7 linked regions of the Homo sapiens genome follow. The protein of the gene in region 5 purifies or fractionates together with the protein of the main gene of each other region. This does not show direct contact. Each region holds a gene or a part of one and is shown on either strand. Other genes may lie near its edges. The genes, in order: CHST3, TSEN15, PLAT, SEMA6A, MSMB, DNPEP and CSTA.

Evidence for each region.
Region 1: the proteins of MSMB (region 5) and CHST3 purify together in Homo sapiens (affinity purification with mass spectrometry; one large-scale study listed by BioGRID and IntAct). This does not show direct contact.
Region 2: the proteins of MSMB (region 5) and TSEN15 purify together in Homo sapiens (affinity purification with mass spectrometry; one large-scale study listed by BioGRID and IntAct). This does not show direct contact.
Region 3: the proteins of MSMB (region 5) and PLAT purify together in Homo sapiens (affinity purification with mass spectrometry; one large-scale study listed by BioGRID and IntAct). This does not show direct contact.
Region 4: the proteins of MSMB (region 5) and SEMA6A purify together in Homo sapiens (affinity purification with mass spectrometry; one large-scale study listed by BioGRID and IntAct). This does not show direct contact.
Region 6: the proteins of MSMB (region 5) and DNPEP purify together in Homo sapiens (affinity purification with mass spectrometry; one large-scale study listed by BioGRID and IntAct). This does not show direct contact.
Region 7: the proteins of MSMB (region 5) and CSTA purify together in Homo sapiens (affinity purification with mass spectrometry, with the first as the bait; one large-scale study listed by BioGRID). This does not show direct contact.

Annotation. Positions count from the first base shown.
Region 1 is NC_000010.11:71,967,395-71,970,894, forward strand, and holds part of CHST3 (carbohydrate sulfotransferase 3), read left to right. Parts: intron 1-3,159; exon of another isoform or gene 3,160-3,320; intron 3,321-3,500. UniProt on the Homo sapiens protein: Sulfotransferase that utilizes 3'-phospho-5'-adenylyl sulfate (PAPS) as sulfonate donor to catalyze the transfer of sulfate to position 6 of the N-acetylgalactosamine (GalNAc) residue of chondroitin.
Region 2 is NC_000001.11:184,054,730-184,058,229, reverse strand, and holds part of TSEN15 (tRNA-splicing endonuclease subunit Sen15), read right to left. Parts: coding exon 3,367-3,500; intron 70-3,366; exon of another isoform or gene 1-69. UniProt on the Homo sapiens protein: Non-catalytic subunit of the tRNA-splicing endonuclease complex, a complex responsible for identification and cleavage of the splice sites in pre-tRNA. It cleaves pre-tRNA at the 5' and 3' splice sites to release the intron.
Region 3 is NC_000008.11:42,187,066-42,190,565, forward strand, and holds part of PLAT (tissue-type plasminogen activator isoform 1 preproprotein), read right to left. Parts: intron 2,007-3,500; coding exon 1,869-2,006; intron 952-1,868; coding exon 841-951; intron 508-840; coding exon 333-507; intron 1-332. UniProt on the Homo sapiens protein: Converts the abundant, but inactive, zymogen plasminogen to plasmin by hydrolyzing a single Arg-Val bond in plasminogen.
Region 4 is NC_000005.10:116,568,324-116,571,823, reverse strand, and holds part of SEMA6A (semaphorin-6A isoform 2 precursor), read left to right. Parts: intron 1-3,500. UniProt on the Homo sapiens protein: Cell surface receptor for PLXNA2 that plays an important role in cell-cell signaling. Required for normal granule cell migration in the developing cerebellum.
Region 5 is NC_000010.11:46,032,813-46,036,269, forward strand, and holds the end of MSMB (beta-microseminoprotein isoform a precursor), read right to left. Parts: intron 3,038-3,457; exon of another isoform or gene 2,581-3,037; intron 740-2,580; coding exon 610-739; 3' UTR 501-609; downstream 1-500.
Region 6 is NC_000002.12:219,374,728-219,377,912, reverse strand, and holds part of DNPEP (aspartyl aminopeptidase), read left to right. Parts: intron 1-2,890; coding exon 2,891-3,058; intron 3,059-3,185.
Region 7 is NC_000003.12:122,338,748-122,342,247, forward strand, and holds the end of CSTA (cystatin-A), read left to right. Parts: intron 1-2,691; coding exon 2,692-2,820; 3' UTR 2,821-3,222; downstream 3,223-3,500. UniProt on the Homo sapiens protein: This is an intracellular thiol proteinase inhibitor. Has an important role in desmosome-mediated cell-cell adhesion in the lower levels of the epidermis.

The sequences.
Region 1 (3,500 bases), about 26 Mb from region 5:
AGCTCCCACTTCTAAGTGAGAGCATGGGGCACTTGATTTTCTGTTCCTGTGTTAGTTTGCTTAGGATAATAGCCGCTAACTCCATCCATGTTGCTGCAAAGGACATGATCTCATTCTCTTTTATGGCTACATAGTATTTCATGGTATATATGTACCACATTTCTTTATCTGGTCTACCGTTGATGGGCATTTAGGTTGATTTCATGTTTTTGCTATTGTGACTAGTGCTATGATAAACATACGTGTGCATGTATCTTTATGGTAGAACAATTTATATTATTTTGGGTATGTACCCAATAATGGGATTGCTTGGTAGAATGGTAATCCTACTTTGAGTTCTTTGAGAACTCTCCAAACTGCTTTCCACAATGGCTGAACTAATTTACATACCCATCAGCAGTGTATAAGCACTCTGTTTTTTGTTTTTTGTTTTTGGTGGGAGTGGTGGGATGGAGTCTTGCTCTGTCACCAGGCTGGAGTACAGTGGTGCGATCTTGGCTCACTGCAACTTCCACCTCCCAGGTTCAAGCAATTCCCCTGCCTCAGCCCCCTGATAGGCGTGCACCACCATGCGTGGCTAATTTTTTTTTTTTTTTGTATTTTAGTAGAGACGAGGTTTCACCATGTTGGCCAGAATGGTCTCGATCTCCTGACCTCGTGATCTGCTCACCTCAGCCCCGCAAAATGCTGGGATTACAGGCATGAGCCGCCTCGCTTGGCCAGCACTCCCTTTTCTCCACAACCTGGCCAGCATCTGTTAATGTTTGACTTTTTAATAATAGCTATTCTGACTGGTATGAGATGGTATCTCATTGTGGTTTTGATTTGCATTTTTCTAATGATTAGTGATGTTGACCGTTTTTTCATATGTTTGTTGGACACATGTATGTCTTCTTTTGAAAAGTATCTGTTTGTGTCCTTTGCCCACTTTTTAATGGGGTTGTTTTTTGCTTGTTAACTTGTTCAAGTTCCTTATAGATTCTGGATATTAGACTTTTGTCGGATGCATAGTTTGCAAATATTTTCTCCTGTTCTGTAGGTTGTCTGTTTACTCTGTTGATAGTTTCTTTTGCTGTGCAGAGGCTCTTTAGTTTAATTAGGTCCCATTTGTCAATTTTTGTTTTTGCTGCAATTGCAAAGCCAGTATTTGAACCCAGATTGTCTAACTCCAGAACCCACCCTGTCTCCACCATGCCAGGCTGTCTGCAAGGCCCTTATTGGTTCTCCATGGCAACAGGGAAACAGCCCTGATGCTTCTTACTAACGTGGTCCCAGGGCCTCTGCTTGCATTCTTCTTTTTCCATACACTCTGCCGAGCCTGGATATACCTTAGGCTGTGGGAATCAAAGGCTGGGTGGTACCAGGCTGCTGGAGCCTTCTGTGTGGCTCTGGAGTCAGAAAACTGTGGAGATTTTGGGGGGGCACACAGGGAGATGTTGCAGTAATTCCAGTGAGACATGACTCACTGCTTATCTGAGAAGTTGGGACAAAGCTGCCTCTTGTGACCATACCGTGAATAGGGAAGAAATTGCCAGGTAGACCAAACATCCTCAAATGGGTTACTGTATTTTTTTCCCCTTTTTGGTCCTCTCCAGGGTAATCTATTACCTGGGGAAATCAGCCTTCACCTGACACCTCCTATTGTCATTTACCTGGTGAACATAAGGGGCCATGTCACAGCTGTCCTTCCCACCCCTGCCACGTGTTCTGGAGAGCTGGACTCCTCAGCAGCACCTGGTCCACAGGAGAGAAGAATGGGGCAGAGCCGGAGCAGCCAGGGGAGGTGATAACCACACGCTCATCTGGTCCCCAGCTCTTGCTTTTACATCCACGCCCCACAGGGAGACAGCAATTATCTGTTGGCCCCACTTTACAGATGAGGACATGAGGCTCAGAGAGGTGCAGTGGATGCCCAAGGTCACGAAGCCAGGCATCTGCAAAGGCCTGGGACAGCCACGTTTTCAGTCGGGGTGGTATTTTCTATCCCCGGCCCCAAGGGCTGAGAGTGGTTATCCCTGCTGGGGCAGGGTCCTCACTGCTCCACCCACCCTCATCTCTGCCCTGAGAGCCCCCAGTACAGATGTCCATAGAACGGGAAAGGCTGGCGCCCTTCAAAGGACGCAAAGAGCATTGGATGAGCACTGCCCAGCTGATCCCTGCCCACCTTCCACAGGAAGCCCACCTGGGTGAGTTCTTAGAGCCTTCCTAGTGCTGAGCTGCAAAGAAACTGGAGCCCTCTCCCCCTCCACTGCAGAGGGGACACAGTGACCAGGACGGAAGTTGGGGGACTGGGTGTGGGGAGAAGCCACCCCACTGCAGGGGCCGGGGCTGTCCATCTTTGTACCCCTGGTTCCATCCCAGTGCCTGAGGCATGGGAAGTTCTTGGAAATGTAGTCAGATGCTGGGTGAAGCCCCAGGAGGGGCCGTGAATGCTTCTGCTGGGAACTCCTAGAGTGGCGGCACAGAGAGGGTCTTTGCTGCGAAGGAACACTCAGAGAGTCTCTGGCTTTCGTGAGGTTATGCCTCAGGAGAGGAGACACTTCTCCTTTTCATTCGTTAAACAGAAATGATATTTGCCACCTTTTCTTCTCTAAGGCCTAAAGAGATGACAGAATGCTGCTGGTCCTACCCTGAGCGCGTGGACTCCACAGCGGGGTGTGGGGTGGCCCCTGGCAGGCCTGGACGGTTTGTTCTGTGCTTGCCGGTGGACACGCTTCAGCCCTCTGTCTCTATTGCCCCAAATCTGGCCTGTGGCTGCTGGGCCGCCACCAGCTTGGAGGGCAGGGTGGGCCCCGGGAGCCCCTGACCACCAGTGACTTCTTGTCTCCAGCTGCCCTCCGTCCTCTTGATCCCCCTCACCCCCCACCACCTCCTCACAAAGATGGCTGTGTGCTGAGGGACTGTGGCTTCCCTGGGCCCTAGGAAATTTATCACTGAGGTTTCAGAGGACTCTATGAAAAGGATTTGGAGAAAAAGTGTGGAAAATAAACAAGCCAGTTCCCAGTTCAGCCTCTCCTGAATGCCGCAAGTAAACAACCACCTCGGAGGCCAGCCCGGGATGTTCTTATTTGGCCTCTGTGGTTACACCTGCCCCCTCCCCGCCCAGTCCCTCCTCCTTAACTTTAAGAGCCTCAAAAGTCAGGGAACACACCCTCCGCTGGCCAGTCCTTGTGCTGCAGGGACGCTGGTGGCTGGGCACAGGAGGAACATGTATATGGGAGAGAAGACGGCCGGGGGTCCCAGCTCAGCCCTGCTCCCTCTGAGTCAGTCCCAAGCCTGGACCCTCCCCAGCAGGCAGACGGTGACGTCTTGGTTGGTTGGTGAGTTTAACTTTGATGGTGCAGAATGATGAGACTTTTCTCCATTTTGTGGCATCTGAGAAGCTTTGCTTCTTAAACATTGCTTTAGGGTGGATAGACCAAAGCTAATTTTCCCGTTATGTCTCTCCAAGACGGGGCCTACCTGTGAGCAAACCCTCATAGATTCATTTACTTTGTAGG
Region 2 (3,500 bases), on a different chromosome or scaffold from region 5:
TCCAACTAATTCTACTTGAAGAAGAAAACAAGCTTTAGCCATTCAAGCTAGAAAAGCATTAATTACCACCTGGAAAATACTAGAAATTAACAATGGAAACAAATTTGTACTTCTAGACTTATGAAATGATTTTGATTAAAATAGGCTATTGCTTTCATTAATTTTATTTTTTAGGAATAAATGCAGGTTAATTTCAAATAGTAGCTCCTTGTCCAAACAAATAATATAACATTAATACTAGCTAGGACAATATTTGTTACAGTAATTAAAAGACAGAAGTAATGAGTTCTGAGGAATGAATTAAGACTCTTGGATATAGGATGGCTTGGAAATCATGCTAGTAAAAACCGGAAAGTACTAGCGATTAAATCTGATGTCAATGCTAACAACTATTTGTAATTCTCAAACACAGAGAAAACAGTAAGGAGCTTCTCAAAGAAGCATATGAATAGACTGACATATTAAAAAACAATTCTCATTATGAATAATAAATACAAAAAATACTTCATAGAAATCTGCAAATTTAGTTTAATATGGCTTTATGAAATATGCACAATGAAAATAACCAGTTACAGCAGCTTTAATTTAGAAGGGATCTTGCATGTACTGGTAATCTAAATCCCTCAACAACAAAATAAGACGAGGAAACTGAAACCCAGAGAAATTAGGTGTGTTGCTAAACATCAAACAAAATGTTAAGTGTCAGTCCCAAGACTAGAACCCAGGTCTTAAGACTTTATAGTCTGGGGCTCTTTCTACTAGACTGCTATGTATTCAGTCATAGTCAGCTAGAAAAAATGTTAAGTATTCATCAACGGTATTCATGCTGGAATTTAAGAGGCTCTGCTCTTTTCCCTACTTATATGCCACCCAAATAGAGCTGTGTTTTCATTTGTTCATTCTTCCCATACCCCACTCTCAGAGGTTTACAGCACCCCTTTACATGCTCAATATTACTCTCCTCCACTATCCTCTTGAATCCATCCTTCCTCATCTCTCAAGAATCTTGCTCCATCAATAATTGTCATCTCTTTTCTATTTTCAGACTTTCTGTAGGACAGCTCACGTGGCAGCTGGCTTCCTTTATAGTAAGCAAGAGAGAGTGCCCAAGATAGAAGCCACAGTCTTTTGTAACCTAATCTTAGAAGTTACATTCCTATCATTTTTGCCAAATTTTATTCATTAGAAAGAAGTCACTGAGTCCAGGTCACACTCAAGGGAAGAGAGTTACATAAGGGAGTGAATACCAGAATTAGGAGAAGCCATCTTAGAAGCTGCCTGCTACAGCTTCTAAAGAAGAAATGCATAAGGGAGGCTTGCTAACCAGATACCAAGACTTCTTACCAAGCAAGCGATTAAGAGATATGGTATTGGCAAAAGGACAGATAAACTGGCTAATGGAATATAATAGAGAACCCAGAAACAAATTAATGCATGTTTGGAACTTTGGAAAGTAGCAGAAGTGATATGTCAGATAGTGAGGAAAGGAGGGACTATTCAGTAAATGGAGGTAGAAAAAGTGGTTATCCACATGACAATGGTATCCCTAACCGCCTCTCACACCATTAAAAACAAGAACAATAGAACTCTTAGTGAAAATATAAGTATTTTTTAGACCGTTAGATAGAAAATATTTCTTAAACTAGACACAAAGACGTTGATTATAAAAGATGGATAAATATGATTATATTCAAATTAAGAACTGTTACTCATTGAAAGACATCTTAAGACAGTGAAAGACAGACTTAAAAACTGGAAAACACAATAAAAAAACTATTAGGTCAAGAATATATAAAGAATTCATACAAGTCAATGAGAAAACTAAAAACAACCCAACAGGCAAAAGATATGAACAGATATTTCTTATAAATAATACATATATAAAGAAATATTCAGTATTATGAGTAATAAGGGAAATGTAAATTAAGACCAAAATAAGAATAATCCATTCCATTGGCAAAAATTTAAAAGTCTGACAATACTAAATGTGAGAGACAATACAGCTCCAAAGGATCTTATTTACACTGCAGGTGAAAAGTAAATTGAGGCAACCACTTTGAAAATAGTTTGAAATTATCTCCTAAAGTTAAACATTAGCAACACTCCATCATCGAGGGAGTGGATGTAAAAATGGTGGTATAATCACACAATGGAATGTTATGTGGCAGCTCAAAAAATGCACAAGAATGGATGAATTTTAGTAATATAATATTAAGTGTATAAGGTCAGCCTTAAAAGATAAGATTTTTTAATTAAAGTTAAAAACATCTAAAATTTAAAAATTCCCAATGTACATGGAATTCAGAATGAGTTACCTCAGGTCAGTGAAAGCACGTTAAGGAAGGGACTTATAAGATTAGATGTTAGTTATTATCAAGAATCTAGTTTTGCTTTGGGTGATGGGTACAGAGATACTTATTACATTATTAAAAATAACTAAGTAAATAAATAAAAACCAAGCATGAACTAATAATGAGAGTATGTCATGAAACAAAGACATGTTTAATCCAATGCTGTGTACCTAAGCTTTTTAAAAAAAGGTCCTAAAAAAAGTCTCTTTTTTAAAGCTTTTAAAAAAAGCTACATGAAAATTTGATTTCAGCTTGCATGTTAATCATGCTTTTCACCAACTGCTATATAAAGTATAATTTGTATTACATGGTACATCTTATAACAGCTGTTATTTCATATGTAATGGTCTTGCTTCCTTACCAAGAATATAAATATTTCTACCATACATACTGTCTCTGAAAAAGTACTGACCATAGAGTAAGTGCTAAATAAATACTTGTTGAATGCTTGATATACTTTGTATATTTGTTCCTGCCCAAATCCCATGTTGAACTGTAATCCCCAATGTTGGAGGTGGGGCCTGGTGGGAGATGTTTGGGTTATAGGGGTAAATCCTTCATGGCTGAGTGCTGTCTTCAGGACAATGAGTTCTCGTGAGATCTGGTCATTTAAAAGTGTGTGGAACCTCCCCCTCAACACTCTCTCTCACTCCTGCTTTTGCCATATGATGTGCCTGCTCTTGCTTCACGAACTTCCTCCATGATTATAAGCTTCCTGAGGCCTCCCTAGAAGCCGAGTAGATGCCAGCACCATGCTTACTGTAAAGCCTTCAGAACTATGAGCCACTTAAACCTCTTCTTTTTTTTTTAAGAAATTACTCAGTCTCAGGTATTTCTTTATAGCAATGCAAGAATGGCCGAATACAACACTCATATTTAACTTATTCCTCAAATAGCCAAGAGTAAAGCTATGAACCCTGTATCCCAAATTTCATTAAAAGTATTACATCACTATGTTTAATGTTTCCTACTGCTTTACTCGGGAAAGGAACTTAGACCAAAATCACCTGCTCACCTGTTATGGCTGAGGGAAGCAGTGATGGGGGTAGGCACCACAGTCTGTAACCCCTCCCCTTCTATCTCAGTACCAACAAGGCAGATGAGCTGGAGTTCTGGTAATCCTACACAGTTTACTTCATGCCAGCTTTT
Region 3 (3,500 bases), on a different chromosome or scaffold from region 5:
CTATGTATCTATCATCTATTTATCTATCAATCATCTATCAATCTATCATCTATCTATCACCTATCATCTGTCTATCTGTCATCCATCTACCGTCTATTTATCATCTATCTATCATGTATGTATCATCTATTTATCTAATCTATCACCTATCATCTATCATCTATCAATCTATCATCTATCACCTATCATCTATTATCTGTCTATCATCTATCCATCTATCCATCCTGTATTGGTTATGTTTCTTGGGAGAACCCTGACGGATCTGACAGAATCTTTCCCCAGCTGTAGCAGCTTCTCACAGGGGGAATCCCTCCTTGGGGATGTGCCCTCACCTGCAGTAGTTGTGGTTCCCCAGGCCCAGCCTGATGGCGTCTGGCCTCCGCCCGCTGTAGGGCTTCTGGGCCAACGCGCTGCTGTTCCAGTTGGTGCACTCGGCGCCACTCTCCGCTGTGCTCCACGTGCCCCTGTAGCTGATGCCCTGGTCCTCGTAGCACGTGGCCCTGGTATCTGACAGAGAGCAGGGCATGGATGCCTCACATGGGAGTCCCCTTTCATTCAGCCCTCAGGAGGCTCCCCTCTCTGCCCCGTCCTCCCCCAGGCCTGATGCAGGCTGGCTCGGAAGCCACAGGCTGGGTGGCAAGGGTGCCAGCCTGGATTCAGGGTCACACCTAGGCTCTGCTTGCTGTGTGGCACTGTGCTTCCTGACCCATGGCAGAAGCGCCTTCCCTGTCCCTGGCCCCCACCCCTGGCCCTGCCATCGCACCCTGCCTTTCCTTCCGGGGGCGGGGGAGACTGGAGAGGTGGGATTTCAGCTCGTTTCACGTGCTCTCACCTACTCACCTATTTCACAGCACTTCCCAGCAAATCCTTCGGGGCACTGGCACACGAAATCTGAGAAGTACAGGGCCTGCTGGCAGGTGCCCCCGTTGAAACACCTTGGCTCGCTGCAACCTGTCAAGTATAAAAAAGGAAGCCCCTAATGACAGCCTCCTTCTGTGTGCTCAGGCCATGGTTCCAGGAGCCCTGTCTACCACAATCCACACACACTCAAGTCCTGCAGCGTGGAACACGCGTATACCAGTTCTGCATCCTACAAATACTGTTTTCATCCTGCCTTTGGTTGAAAAAAATCCATACATAAGTGGACCCTGCAGGTCAGACAAGTGTTGTTCAAGGGTCCCCTGTATTTTCAAAGCAGCTCCAAGGATGATGTGAGTTAAAATATTAAGAATGTGCTCTATGTGCCAGGCGCTGTTGTACAGTCTACAAAAATTAGCTAATTTAATCCTCACAGCAAACCATGAAGTGTGTACTGTTATTCCCACCTCTTTATAGATGAGGAAACTGAGGCAAGCGGGCATTTGCCCAAGGTCACTTGGTCTTGCTCCCTTTTCTGCTTGTACCTTCACCTCCGCCTAAGGCCGAACAGGCCTGGAGGCTCCTTTTGAAGATTTGAACTTTCCGGGGACCATGAAAGACAGGGTTCATGACTGGACCCCTGAACTCGAAGTCTCAGTTTGAAGTCGATTTGTACTGGGCTTTTCTGTGTTTTTGTTTTTGTTTGTGTTGTTTTGTTTTGTTTTAGAGGTGAGGGCTTGCCCTGTCACTGAGGTTGAAATGCAGTGGCACAATCGTAGATTACTGCAGCCTCCAACTCCTGGGCTCAAGTGATCCTTCTGCCTCAACCTCCCAAGTAGTTGGGACTACATACCAGGTCTGGCTAATTTTTTTATTTTTTGTAGAGACAGGGGACTTGCTATGTTTGCCCAGATTGGTCTTGAACTCCCGGGCTCCAGCGACCCTCCCACCTTGGCCTCCTAAAGTGCTGGGATCACAGGCATGCACCACCTCCCAGCCTCAGTACATACTTTTGACAGGCACTGAGTGGCACTGTGCCCTGCCACTGTTGCACCAGCAATATTCCACCCGGTTGCTTCTGAGCACAGGGCGCAGCCATGACTGATGTTGCTGGTATATCATCTGCGTTTTTTCATCTCTGCAGATCACTATGAGAAAAGACAGGCCAGCCTCATCAGAGTATGACTCAAAATGAAATGCCTCACTACCCTTGCACCTACTGAGAAAACTCCCTCACTTGCTTTCTATAGACTCCATTGCATACTCCCTTATTGAAGAGACACAACTGGAAGACAACAAGATAATGAATACTGGCCAAACACGGTGACTGATGCTGGTAATCCCAGCACTTTGGGTGGCCGAGGTGGGTGAATCACTTGAGCTCAGGAGTTCGAGACCAGCCTGGCCAACATGGTGAAACCCTATCTCTACTAAAAATACAAAAATGAGCCAGGCATGGTGGCAGGTGCCTGTAATCCCAGCTACTCAGGAGGCTGAGGCAGGAGTATTGCTTGAACCCAGGAAGTGGGGGTTGCAGTGAGCCGAGATTGTACCACTGCACTCCAGCCTGGGCGACAGAGCAAGACTCCATCTCAAAATAAAATAAAATAAATTTGCATTTCTTTTCTGAGTGCCATTGAGTATCTTCTCATATGATTTATTTATTTATTATTTATTTATTATTATTATTTTTGAAACAAAGTCTCACTCTGTCGCCCAGGCTGGAGTGAAGTGGCACAATCTCGGCTCACTGCAACCTCCACCTCCTGGGTTCAAGTGATTCTCCTGCCTCAGCCTCCCGAGTAGCTGGGATTACAGGTGCCCGATACCATGCCCGGCTAATTTTTGTATTTTTGGTAGGGACGGGGTTTCACCATATTGGACAGGCTGGTCTCGAACTCCTGATCTCAAGTGATCCACCCACCTCGGTCTCCCAAAGTGCTGGGGTTACAGGCATGAGCCACCGTGCCCAGCCTAATTTTTTCTTTTCTTTTCTTTTTCTTTTTTTTTTTCGAGGGTCTCTGTCACCCAGGCTGGAGTCCAATGGTGCTGTCTTGGCTCACTGCAACCTCTGCCTCCCAGGCTCAAGCAGTCCTCCTGCGTCAACCTCCCAAGTAGCTGGGACTACAGGTGCACACCACCACACCCAGCTAATTTTTAAATTTTTTTGTAGAGGCGGGGTGGGGTGGGGGAGGCAGAGGTGTCTCACTATGTTGCCCATGCTGGTCTTGAACTCCTGGGCTAAAGCCATCCTCCTGGATCCGCCTCCTAAAGTGCTGGAGTTACAGATGTGAGCCATTGCACCTGGACTTTTTCTCATTGTAATTCACCAAAAAATATATATATGCATAACTGTCTACCAGAGTTTTTTATCCACATAAGTATTACCACACAGAAATGATGCATTTTTGGCCCCAAAGAAAATTGACATTTTAGACTTTGCAGAAAATGTGCTACTTCTCCAAGTATTTTTGGCATAATGAAAATAGTTGAAGTACTCCCATTAATATTTTCATGCCATCTTTCTGTTTTCAAGCCAGAATGCCAACTTAAAAAACAACAACTTTACTTTCAATTAATTAAAGAAGTAGCACGTGCCCACTGTAAGTCAGACCCTTGCTGCTTCTGAGGTCACTGAGGCC
Region 4 (3,500 bases), on a different chromosome or scaffold from region 5:
TTAATGCTGTGTTTAGTCTACATGGAGCAGTTTTATGATTTACAGTAAGCTTTGATTAAACTACTCCAGGCACCAAAGTTAATTATTAACCTAACCTTAAATACAGTGGCAGAACTATGTCTCCACCTATTAACCTAAACTATCTATTAAAAAATAATTGCACTAGCTATTTGAATTTGGTTTACCCATGCTTGTTTGTATGGTAACTTTTATTTGAATCTTGAGTAACCCTTACTCCCTGTTATTATTTTGGTTTTGGGACGTTCTTGAATGAGGCACTTTGCAAACCAGTTTAAAGCAGAAAAGAACGAACATCAAATTTAAAATCTTACTTTTGGTTATGAGTCATTTTTCAACTTGATGTAAAGAAGCATTCTACTTTATGTTTCTGATGTACAGTGTTTGTGGGTGACAACCTTCCCCATATGTTAGGTTTTGCAGCTATCACCTTTTAGAGATGTGCTACATTTTCAATAACGCATATAATCCACATATGTAAATGTTAAGCAGATACCGAAAATCATTTCTGAGGAGCCATCAGCTGAATATACTTATTGGACATAACAACTAAGCTTAAATAGGTAAAAATTTTATAAGAACCAGTATAGAACACTCAAGTAAATGTCGAATGAATGAAATAAATAGTCACACATGGTTCATGTTTGTCCACTTAAAGTGGACTTCTTTATTTTCCCTACAGTGAAAAAAAAAATATATGCCTTCAAGTGAGTGGTTATGATAAGGCGGCAATAAGTGCACCTTTTTATTTACACACAACACACACCCCTCAAGTTCTTCCAAAATCTAGTAAATGCTTTTTCCAACATTAAACACATATAGCAGTTGTATTTTGAGTAGGCGGGTAACATTGCACTAGTGAAGTCTAATGTGTTGAATCAGAAGTGTAGCAAGAATTAGGAAGACTGTTATCTTCACCAAATAAAAATGAGGCATCCAAATTAAGAACTTGTATTAAATTCAAAATAAGTAGTTATGCTTTAAAAGTAAATGGGTAGTTGCACTCCTATATGAAATGGAAGGAAAAATACTATTTTGAACCAGGAGTTAAGTCAGATAGTTTATTCTGTGTACATTGTGGTTCAGCGCTTTTCAGAACAGGACAAAAGAGTGATGATGGGATGAAAGTTTTTTTAGAACTAGATTGCCAAGAGCTAATATAGTCTCTCCATCTTATTTGTTTGCAGGAAGGAATCACAGAACAAGCTAAGCTAATTGCAAATGCTTTAATTAAGCATCTGCCATTTGTGTAAGGCAATGCCTAGGAAAGCCTATCTCTGCACTGCCCCTCTCCACACCCTTCTTTAGGTTTAGACAATTTTCTGTCCTCCTAGAGTAGAGGAGTGCTCCTTGACATATTTATATAGAAGCTTTGTGTTATGGCAGCCACATTTGTGCATGTTGAGGAAGGTGATGCCTTGAGGCGTTCTGCTGGGCCCTCCCATATCAGGAACCCCCCCCACTCTCTTGGGGTGCCTTGGAGCCAAGTTTTCTCTGAGATATTTCTATTTCAGCGTGAAGGCTTTTCTCATCTGCTTTAAAATGTGCTGCAAGAGCAACTGAGCTATTCTCTGCTGGCGACCACATGGTTGCCTCTTGGGGATATGGTAAGATAGAGAAAGGAGGGAGGCATTTAATCCCTTCGAAATGGGCAAATGAGATGTCATACCACACAAACCTCAAGGGGAGGAGTTCAGGACAACTTCTCACCATGGGACTACTGCATATAGTCTATACACAAGGGTATCTTGCTTTGTGAAACAGATGAGCTCTTGCAAAACTTTATTACAATAATTCCATTTACACCAATAGAGGGTATCATATAAAACCATAATACACAGATGATTCCCAAATAACCTCTTCAGCTTAGACCTCTCTCCTGGACCTCACAAATAACCAATGCTTAGTGGGTAGGTAGCTCCTCCTGAATAGACATCTCAAACTTAGGTTTAAAAAACCTAATTCTGTATCTTTCTCCCCCATATCTGCCTTTCTCATAGTCTTCTCCATCATAGTAAATGGCAACTCCATTCTTTGAGTTGCCGGCCCCCAAATTTAGTTCTCCTTGAAGCTTCTCTGTCACACCTACATCCATTGTGGCTGCAATGCTGTTGGCTCCACCTTTGGAATACCTGCAGGCTTCCTTCAGGTGTTCCTCCTCTGTGGCCCTCAAATTGGCCAAGCCATGGTCCTCTCCTGCTAGGTTTTCATGCCAGCTTCCCCACTAGCATTCCTGCCTCTGCCCATTTCTCAACACAGCAGCCAAAACACAGCAGTGATTTTTTTTTTAAACTAAACCAGATCAGATCACTACTTTGCTCAGATGTTTTCCCATCTTCTTCCAATAAAAGCCAAAGTCCTTCCTATGGCCTTTGCAGCCCCACATGATCTGCACTCAGGTTCCAACCTCTCTGACCTCCACCCCTTGGGCTTGCTTGAATCTGTCAAGCATGGCATATACTTGGGGTCCTTTGCAAGGACTTACTCTTTCATGCCTTGGGATGGTTCTTTCCCCAGATAGCTACATGATTTGCTTCTCATATTCTTCAGGTCTCTGTTCAAATGTCACTTTCTCAGTGAAGCCTTTTGATCCCCTTATTTACTTTACTCTTTCCCACAGCACTCCCCACCTCTTGGCAGTCCTTATTTTTTTCTTAGCATTTTTCACAGTCTGACAAACTATATGTTGTCCTTGTTGATTTTCTGTCTTCCACTAGAACATAATGCCATAAGGATAGACATTTTTAGGCTTTATTCACTCTGGCACCTAAAGCTGTGCCTGGCACATCATGGGCCATCCATAACAAGTGTTTGCTGAATGAATAAACAGTGAATCATTTTTGCAAACAACTAGTCTTTATTTTATCTATTTTGTCTGCCTTTGTTTTTCTATATCATGTTTTTATCAAATGAGATACTTCATGCATGCATGTGTGTGTGTGTACTTCATGCATGAATGTGTGTGTGTGTGTGTGTGTGTGTGTACAATCTTCCAAGCACATAGGTGGTATGGCTCATGCATCATTAGTGGAACATTCACTGTGTTGTTTTTCCAGTGGTAGTGATGGATTGGAGCCTGTTCATTCCCACATTCTCACCCAGTCCCCTCCTGTGTCCAAGAGCACACATCTGTGAGACACCTGGTTGTAGCTGGAGGGAGTCTGAGTTAGGTAAAATCAACTTGCCAAGAAACAGAGCTAAGAAGACAGCCAGCATTTGTGGGGATTGAGCTTTTGACCCTGGCCTCATTTGTTCTGCATTCTAACCACTGGCCATAGAACGTTCATGTTTTTTTGGAGTTTGCTAATAGTAGTTTTAAAATTCAACTTTCTATCAGGAGAATACAGCATACTTTATTAACCCATGTTTCTGCCCTGTACCCGTACAGTATATCTGCTGTTGAGGATCCTGCACTTGGAGACAAGAAGACCTGAGTTCCAGACTCTCACTACCTTGGACAAGTCACTTAACTTCTCTGTGGC
Region 5 (3,457 bases):
GGGATGCACAATGACCTATTATAGAGTTTAGGAAAAATAGAACTTTTATTCATATGTATTTTGTTTTGTTTTGTTTTGTTTGGGTTTGGGTTTGTTTGTTTGTTTGCTTGTTTTTTGAGACGGAGTCTCACTCTGTCACCCAGGCTGGAGTGCACTGATGTGATCTTGGCTCACTGCAACCTCCGCCTCCCGGGTTCAAGTGATTCTCCTGCCTCAGCCTCCCGAGTAGCTGGGACTACAGGTGCCTGCCACCACGCTAATTTTGTATTTCAGTGGAGACGGGGTTTCACTATGTTGGCCAGGCTGTTCTCGATCCCCTGACCTCAAATGATCCGCCTGCCTTGGCCTCCCAAAGTGCTGGGATTATAGGCATGAGCCACTGTGCCCGGCCATTCATATGTAGTTTTGTCTCCCTTTTTAAATGTTTTGTATTCTTTATAATGTGTATTAAATCAATGCATACATAAATTATAAATTAAAAGGACACACATATTCAAGTGTTTGCTCAAAAATCTTTTTACTGATAGGCATGGCTACACAATCATTGACTATTAGAGGCCAGAGGAGAATGAGGCCTGGCCTGGGAGCCCTGTGCCTACTAGAAGCACATTAGATTATCCATTCACTGACAGAACAGGTCTTTTTTGGGTCCTTCTTCTCCACCACGATATACTTGCAGTCCTCCTTCTTGAAGATTCTTTGGCAGTTGTCTTTGTCATAACCCACAGGTGTAGAAACACTGTCATTGAGACAAAACTGGGGCCTGTTAGAAGAGAAAGGACCCCGAGCACCCCCTCCCCAGTGCCAGCTCTGTTCAGGAAGTCACCCACACTCCAACTTAAGGGCACCCTTTGGCTGGCAGCCCCAGAGTGTGACCTCCAGGAACCTGGACCAGTCTGTACCATAGAGTCACACAGCTCACCCCTACATTCCATCCTGCAGGCACAGAAGGTCATCAGTAGGTGCTGACAGGCCCAGGGGCAAGTCTGGCTACTCTAGAAAGTGGCAGCTTGTTCCATGCTGGCTCCTCCCACCCTCCCTGTTCAGGAAGTGGCCAGCATATTGTTGCTAGAATGTGGAAAGGAAACAAATCCCAGCCCTGACTTGGAGGCCTGTTGGCAAAGGAGCTCTCTCAACCAACCAGAGCAATGAGTCACTCCAGGCCAGTGTCATGGAGCCCAGGGAGAAGCTGATGAAAGTCAGAGACCACCTCTAATTGAGCTGCAGTACATACAAATATTTTGAAGAGTTCTGATGAGATGAGATGATACTAATGCTAGAATATTTATGTATTATTACTATTATTACTTTAATTTTTTGAGATGAATTTCACTCTGTCACCCAGGATGGAGTGCAGTGGCACGATCTCAGCTCACTTCAGCCTCCGTCTCCCAGGTTTAAGCGATTCTCCTGCCTCAGCCTCTTGAGTAGCTGGGATTACAGGAGCACACCACTACACCCAGCTAATTTTTATATTTTTAGTAGAGATGGCGGGTCGGCGCGGGGGAGGTCTCACCATGTTGGCCAGGCAGGTCTCGAACTCCTGACCTCAAATGATCCACCCACCTTGTCCTCCCAAAGTGCTGGGATTACAGGCGTGAGACACCATGCCCAGCCCAGTGCTAGAATATTAAGTGGAAAAATCAGCCCACAAAACTGTGATATAAAATTTGATATCCACTATGTAAAAGAAAAAACATATAGAAAAGAGACATAAAGAAATGATGATAGGGCCGGGCGCTGTGTCTCACGCCTGTAATCCCAGCACCTTGGGAGGCCGAGGCGGGCGGATCACGAGGTCAGGAGATCGAGACCATCCTGGCTAAACCGGTGAAACCCCGTCTCCACTAAAAATACAAAAAATTAGCCGGGCGTGGTTGCAGGCGCCTGTAGTCCCAGCTACTCAGGAGGCTGAGACAGGAGAATGGCGTGAACCCAGGAGGCGGAGCTTGCAGTGAGCAGAGATCACACCACTGCACTCCATCCTGGGCGACAGAGCAAGATTCCATCTCAAAAAAAAAAAAAAGAAAATAAATGATGATAGAAGCCCAGGCATGGTGGCACATGCCTGTAATCCCAGCTACTTGGGGCTGAGGTGAGACAACAGCTTGATCCCAGGAGTTTGAGACCAGCTTGGGCAACATAGTGAGACCCTGTCTTAATTTTTTTAATACAAATAAATAAATAAATAAAAATAGAATGTTAATAGTTATTACCTTTACACAGTTGGGATTATGAGTAGGTATTTCTTCTTTTTTCTCTTATGCTTCCCAATGATTCTATAATTCATATGTTTACTTAGAAAATTGGGAAATATCATTTAAAACCTTTCATGTTTTTCATGTTTAAAGGTGATTGCTGGCTGGTAGGAATGTAAAATGGTGCAGCTGCTGTGGAAAACAGCTTGGCAGCTCCTCAATAAGTTAAACAAAAAATTACCATATGACCCAGAAAGCTACTCCTGGGTATATATCCCAAAAGAATTGAAAGCAGGGACTCAAACATTATATGCCAATGTTTGTATATTGACAAACACTGTATGCCAATGTTCAGAACAACATTACTTACTTTATCCAACAGGCAGAAGCAACTCAAGTGTTCAACAAATAAATGGATAAGCAAAATGTGGTATGACCATGCCATGGAATATTATTCTGGCAGAAACAAGAATGAAGTACTGATACATGCTACAACATGAATGAACCTTGACAACATGCTGAGTGAAATAAGCCAGACACGAAAAGACAAACACAGTGTGATTGTATTTATGTGAAATATCTAGAGTAGGCAAATTCATAGAGACAGAAAGTAGACTTGAGATTACCACAGGTTTGGGGGACAGGGAATCTGAGTTATTGTTTAATGGATATAGAGTTTCAGATTGGAGTCATTAAAAAGATTTGGAAATAGTGTTTATGGTTGCATAGTACTGTGAATGTACTTAATGCCGCTGAATTGTATGTTTTAAAATGGTTACACTGGCACATTTTATGTAGTATACATTTTACCACAATAAAAAAAAAAGGTTAAAAATAAAGTGGTGTTTGTTGAAGAGATACAATTCTTTTAGTTCATGGTAGGAAGTGAAATGGTGAATCTGTGCTGCCTGTGTGCAAATACAAGTTGGTAAGGCAAAAGGCATATTACTGCATGCTTATTTCAATGCAAACCAGACTTAGCTCTATAGAGGAAACAGCAGAGAGAGAGAGGGAGGGAGAAACTGTCAACATCGGGTATTCAGCTAACCAGAGTCAGTGGCTGGATGACCTTGGCCTTTTGTCTCCCACTCCCTTTTCCTCACCCAAGTCAGGGAGCCAGCCCTGGGCCCGGGCAGCGTGGAGCCCAGGACATCTCCCATGCCCTACCTGGGAGCCTCTGCCTGGGCCCCCAGCCTCAGGCTCCACTGCCACCGAGCACCTTGAGATCTGGGCAGCGTCCCATAGAGGGTGCAGTGGGT
Region 6 (3,185 bases), on a different chromosome or scaffold from region 5:
CTTGCTTTGTCTCCCAGGCTGGAGTGCAGTGGCATGATCATAGCTCACTGCACCCTCAAACTCCTGAGCTCAGAAGATCTTCCTGCCTCAGTCTCCCAAGTAGCTGGGACTACAGATGCATGCCACCATGCTGGCTAATTTTCTATTTTTAGTAAAAATGGGGTTCTTGCTATGTTGCCCAGGCTGGTCTTGAACTCCTGGCTTCAAGCAGTCCTCCCACCTTGGCCTCCCAAAGTGCTAGGATTACAGGCATGAGCCACCATTCCCAACCCCATTTCAGGAAATTGTTGTTTCAGTAAACTTGTACCTCATCTAATGCACAGATCACTTTCCGTTTTCCCCAGTTATCCTCAAAATATTTTTTTTACAGGTATTTGGCCCACCCTAGTATCCAACTCAGGACAATGCGTTATATTTGGCTGATATGTTGCTTAAATGTCTTCCAGTGTAGCACAGTTCCCCCCACCCCTTTTTAAATAGCATTGGCTTATTCAAGAAACTTCTGGATATGTCTCCTTGCTGCCCCATGGTGTCATTTAGCTTGTCTGTAAGCCCCGTATTTCCTATCAACTGGAATTTCTAAAGACTTGATGGATTCAAGTTAAACTTTTTTTTTTTTTTTTTTTTTTTTTTTTGACAGAGTGAGAGTTTCACTCTGTCGCCCAGGCTGGAGTCTAATGGCGTGATCTCGGCTCATTGCAACCTCCGCCTCCCTGGTTCAAGTGATCCTTCTGTCTCAGCCTCCAAAGTAGCTGGGATTACAAGTGTGCACCACGATGCCCAGCTAATTTTTGTATTTTTAGTAGAGACAGGGTTTCACCATATTGGCCAGACTGGTCTTGAACTCCTGACCTCAAGTGGTCCGCCCACCTCAGCCTCCCAAAGTGCTGGGATTACAGGTGTGAGCCACCGTGCCTAGCCTCAAGTTAAACATTTTGGGCTAGAAGACATGGCTGGTGTATTCATATGGCATCACACACATGATATCTGGGTGGGCCACCCTTAGCCTTGCAAAGATTGACCACTGGACCAGGAATGGCCTCTTATCCTTTCATTATATAGTGCTTTTCCCCTATTGACCTGACAGTGACCCATACAAGTGATGAGTTCCCTATTAACCAGATACCTAATGGTTTTAACACTTACAATAATCCTTGTCTAAATCAGTAATTTCATTAGAATTTACCGAAAAATGCCCGCTTCCCCTGAATTCTTTCAGTCTTCCATTCTTCTGTGAAGTGGAACTTCTTCCCTCCAATCAACTAGGGTTCTTTGGTTATCATGGAATATCATTCCTATTGATTGGAAAGCAGGATAAATGCTAATTCTTTCTGTTATCCACTTTTCAAGGTGAAATGTCGTCTCAAATAGTGACAAAGAAAGATTTTTCCTTTTCCTTTTTTTTTCTTTTTCTTTTTTTTTTTTTAGACAGGGTCTCGCTCTGTTGCCCAGGCTGGAGTGTAGTGTCGCAATCTCAGCTCACTGCAACCTCCTCCCCACAGGTGCAAGAGAGTCTCATACCTCAGCCACCTGAGTAGCTGGGATTACAGGCATGCACCACCATGCCCGGCTGTTTCTTGTATTTTTAATAGATACAGGGTTTCACCATGTTGGCCAGGCTGGTCTTGAACTCCTGGAATCATGTGATCTGCACACCTTGGCCTCCCAAAGTGCTGGGATTACAGGCGTGAGCCAGCACACCTGGCCTGCTTTTCCCTTTCTGACTATCTTAGAATCATGGAATTTCATTTATTCAGTGTCCTCTATAATTATTATATTTGATTTGTGAATTGCCATGGCTTTGACCAGTGGGAGCCCCTTCAGCATAACTCCTGTGCCCTTTGACTCTTGGAAGTCTCCTTGCTTTTTGGCACAACAAAAATTGTAGACATGTCTTGTTCATTTCGCCCCCCAGACTTGGTAGTTTTTGGCAAGCAGTGGTATTAGAGACCATAGCCTGGCACTGCAAGTGTTCATTGTTCTTGGGGGAGGGGACGGTGCTTTGGGTCCATTTCCATGGACATAGCAAGAAAAAAGTACATATTTTAAAAATCATGAAGCCAGGTGTGGTAGCTCAGGCCTGTAATCCCAGCACTTTGAGAGGTAGTGGATCACTTGAAGTCAGAAGTTCGAGAACAGCCTGGCCAATATGGCAAAATCTCGTCTCTACTGAAAATACAATAATTAGCTGAACGTGGTGGTGCGTGCCTGTAATCCCAGCTACTTGGGAGGCTGAGACAGGAGAATCGCTTGAACCCAGGAGGCAGAGGTTGCAGCGAGCTGAGATTGCGCCACTGCACTCCAGCCTGGGCATCGCAGGGAGACTCCATCTCAAAATAAATAAATAAAATAAAATAAAAATTTTTAAATAAAAATCATGAGTTAATACTGTAATTCTTATTCATAAAATTATTCTTATTTAGTTAAATAGTTACTACCTATTTGATTTTGTAATTCTGTTTTCTCTTACACTGAAAACCTTGATATCTAGCATCATATTTTCATTTTCTTATTTTTTTACCATAATATAAAGAAAATCATTTCAAAATGTCAGTAGCAATATTTTTAAAGACACTGATACCACTGAGTGATTTTTTTCTGTGAGTGTGGATATTAAGCAAGAGGGTGACAAGGATGGATACTTTTAAAAATCCCCCTTCCTGCTGTGTGGAGAATGGATTGGAACTAGGGTGGTGGCAATGCAGATAGAATGGGACCAATTCAGAATATATTGTCCTTTGGGGTCTGCCATTTAGCATTGGCTTTGATTTTATGCTCCGAATGGACCATCTCCCAGGCCCCTTCCCACCCTGCAATTCTAAGATGGCGTCCTCCTTGGCTCTGATAAGCACACACTGCATGTTGCTCATGGGTCTCCTGCTCTCCCTAGGATCTCATGGTCCGGAATGACACCCCCTGTGGAACCACCATTGGACCTATCTTGGCTTCTCGGCTGGGGCTGCGGGTGCTGGATTTAGGCAGCCCCCAACTGGCCATGCACTCTATCCGGGAGATGGCCTGCACCACAGGAGTCCTCCAGACCCTCACCCTCTTCAAGGTAACACCCACCCCAGACCCTCTCTGGCAGCTGGGCTGCTTCCCCTCTAGTGCCTGGATTGGTTGCTGGGACAACATCGCCATCACAAAGTGACTGGCCTGAGTAATGGGGGCTGGTTGTCATGCTG
Region 7 (3,500 bases), on a different chromosome or scaffold from region 5:
ATTATGTGCAAAGATAGGAAACATTCCATCAACATTAACATATTTAATAATTTATGATTAATTCAAATGCATAAATTTCACATATTACCAGCTCACATGTTTCTTCAACAGTTCATCAGATAACTATCTTGAAAATTTCTGCTTGAAAATTTGTTCCCTTGACCACCCTTTTGCCCTCTCTTAATCAGTCTCCTCTCTCTCTCTCATCTTTTCTTCCTTCTGCTATCAAACTTTTCCTACTGGATCTCAGCCACCGATCCCAGTTCCCTTTTACTTCCTGGTAGTCTGGCTGTTGATCCCTTTGCTCTGAGGCACTCTAGATTTAAGGTCTTGCCAGTGATGTGACCTTCTCTATGTATTTCAAGTACCTATCAAGAGGTAGGTGGTAGAATGGAAGGACCACAAGCTTAGGTGTCAGAGTGTCCTGGGTTTGAACCCTTGTTCAATTTGTTCTATGGGAAGCTCCTCCTCCTCTCTGAGCCTTCATTCCCTTATCTGCACAATGAGGGTAATAATCTACTTCGCAGCGTGTTGTGAGGAATAAATAAGCTGGAAATTTATTGAGCACTTATAATTCACTATGCACTATTCTAAGAACAGGGCTTATCTCATTTAATCCTCACAACAAATCTATGAGATAAGTACAATCACTTCTCTTGGGTTACCAACGAAAAAACTGAGTTCCAGGGTGGTGAAGAAACTAAAAAGATCACACAACTACAAGAGCAGAGTCAGGATTTGAACCCAGATAGACTGAGCTTAACTACTGGCTGTGCTGCCTCTAATATAAAGCACAAAATAAGAGCTTTTACAAGGTTACACTGGCCTGGTGTGGTGGCTTATACCTGTAATCCGAACACTTTGGGAGGCCAAGGTGGGAGGATAGCTTGAAGCCAGGAGTTTGAGATCATTCTGGGCAACATAGCAAGACCCTGCCTCTACAAAGAAAATGTTTTAATTACCTAGGCATGGTGATGCACACCAGTAGTCCTAGCTACTTGGGAAGCTGAGGTAGGAGGATCACTTGAGCCGAGGAGTTTGAGGTTGCAGTGAGCTGCGATCGCACCACTGCACTGTGAGCCAGGCCTCATTCCCCGATCAGTACCCCCCAAAAATGTTACATTGTAGAGTGAAAAGAATGTAGATGCTAGAGGCTAACAGATCTGGGTTTGAATATTGGCTGTGCCACTGACTAGCTGAGAGATTTATGGAAAATCACTTAATCTCTCCTACTCTGCTTCCACGTCTGTAAAAATTTCATTGCTCCACTTTTCTTCAGGCCTATAATATAGGTTAATATAATCATTTATATAAAATGTTCATCATAGTGTCTGGCTCACAGTAAACATTTGATATATGGCATTTGTTAAAATTAGGATAGGAAGTGACATCAGAAGCACAATAAATATTTGTATAAGACAAAGCATTTATTGTCTCCAGCAAGAACCAAAGTAAAAATTCTTACCATAATTTTCCAGGTCTCAGATTCATGTCCAAACTACTGCTTCTGCTTCAACCTTCCTACCAATGACTTCCTAGTAAAACCCCTTAGCTTTTTTTTTTCTTTTCTTTTTTGAGACGGAGTTTCACTCTGTCACTCAGGCTGGAGTGCAGTGGCACAATCTCGGCTCTCTGCGACCTCCACCTCCCGGATTCAAGCGATTCTCCTGCTTCAGCCTCCCAAGTAGCTGGGATTACAGATGTGCACCACCACACCCAGCTAATTTTGTATTTTTAGTAGAGACCAGATTTCACCATGTTGGCCAGGTTTGTCTCAAACTCCTGACCTCAGGTGATCCACCCACCTTGGCCTCCCAAAGTGCTGGGATTATAGGCGTGAGCCACAGTGCCCGGCTGGCCCCTTCACTTTAGAAGGGAGGGTGTCCGCCCCCTGGGCTCTGCTCAATCCTACCAGTGGGTGTTTATAAAGTAGGTTCTGATATAGGTATGGGAACCCTGCATCCCAAATTTTCTAGGGCAATTCTGATTTTCTTCTCCCTTATCAGACTGTATGGCAAACAAAGTGTCCCAAGTTGAGAGTCAGAAAACAGTATCACCAAAAATATAGGCTATCACTTGTTTTCTTGCTCCATGCATCTTTGAAAATAAAATGCTGTCCTTTGTGCCCAGATTATACTAAAAAAAATAACAAAATAAACCTAGGACCTATGCCTCTTGCCATGCCATTAGTCTACAATTTTTTTTTTTTTTTAAGACAAACTCTTGCTCTATCACCCAGGCTGGAGTACAGTGGCATGATCTCGGCTCACTGCAACCTTCTCCTCCTGGGTTCAAGTGATTCTCCTGCCTCAGCCTCTAGAGTAGCTGGGATTACAGGCATGCACCACCATGCCCGGCTAATTTTTTGTATTTTTAGTAGAGACGGGATTTCACCATGCTGGCCAGGCTTGTCTTGAACTCCTGACCTCGTGATCCCCCTGCCTCAGCCTCCCAAAGTGCTAGGATTACAGGTGGGAGCCACGGCACCCAGCCTAGTCTGCTCTTTTTCTCCTAAAATAAGGTGGTGGATTTATGAATACAAAGAGTCTAAGAATGGTGGACTAGGTCTAGCAATGCTGTTCCTCAGCAGCTTTTTGGACAGAAGTCTTTGTAGACCTGTGGCTCTCTCACTTGATGTAGACCCATTTGAATGAATCTCCTTTTGCTTTCTCTTTCTTTAATATTTTTCAGGTACGAGCAGGTGATAATAAATATATGCACTTGAAAGTATTCAAAAGTCTTCCCGGACAAAATGAGGACTTGGTACTTACTGGATACCAGGTTGACAAAAACAAGGATGACGAGCTGACGGGCTTTTAGCAGCATGTACCCAAAGTGTTCTGATTCCTTCAACTGGCTACTGAGTCATGATCCTTGCTGATAAATATAACCATCAATAAAGAAGCATTCTTTTCCAAAGAAATTATTTCTTCAATTATTTCTCATTTATTGTATTAAGCAGAAATTACCTTTTCTTTCTCAAAATCAGTGTTATTGCTTTAGAGTATAAACTCCATATAAATTGATGGCAATTGGAAATCTTATAAAAACTAGTCAAGCCTAATGCAACTGGCTAAAGGATAGTACCACCCTCACCCCCACCATAGGCAGGCTGGATCGTGGACTATCAATTCACCAGCCTCCTTGTTCCCTGTGGCTGCTGATAACCCAACATTCCATCTCTACCCTCATACTTCAAAATTAAATCAAGTATTTTACAAAGTGTGTGTGTGTGTGTGTGTGTGTATATATATACTTTTTTTTTTTTTTTTTTTTTGAGACAGAGTCTCGTTCTGTCACCCAGGCTAGAGTGCAATGGTGTGATCTCGGCTCACTGCAACCTCCACCTCCCAGGTTTAAGCGATTCTCCCATCTCAGCCTCCCAAGTAGCTGGGATTACAGGCACCTACCACTGCGCCTAGCTAATTTTTGTATTTTTAGTAGAGACAGGGTTTTGCCATGTTGGCCAGGCTGGTTTCGAACTCCTGACCCTAGGTGAT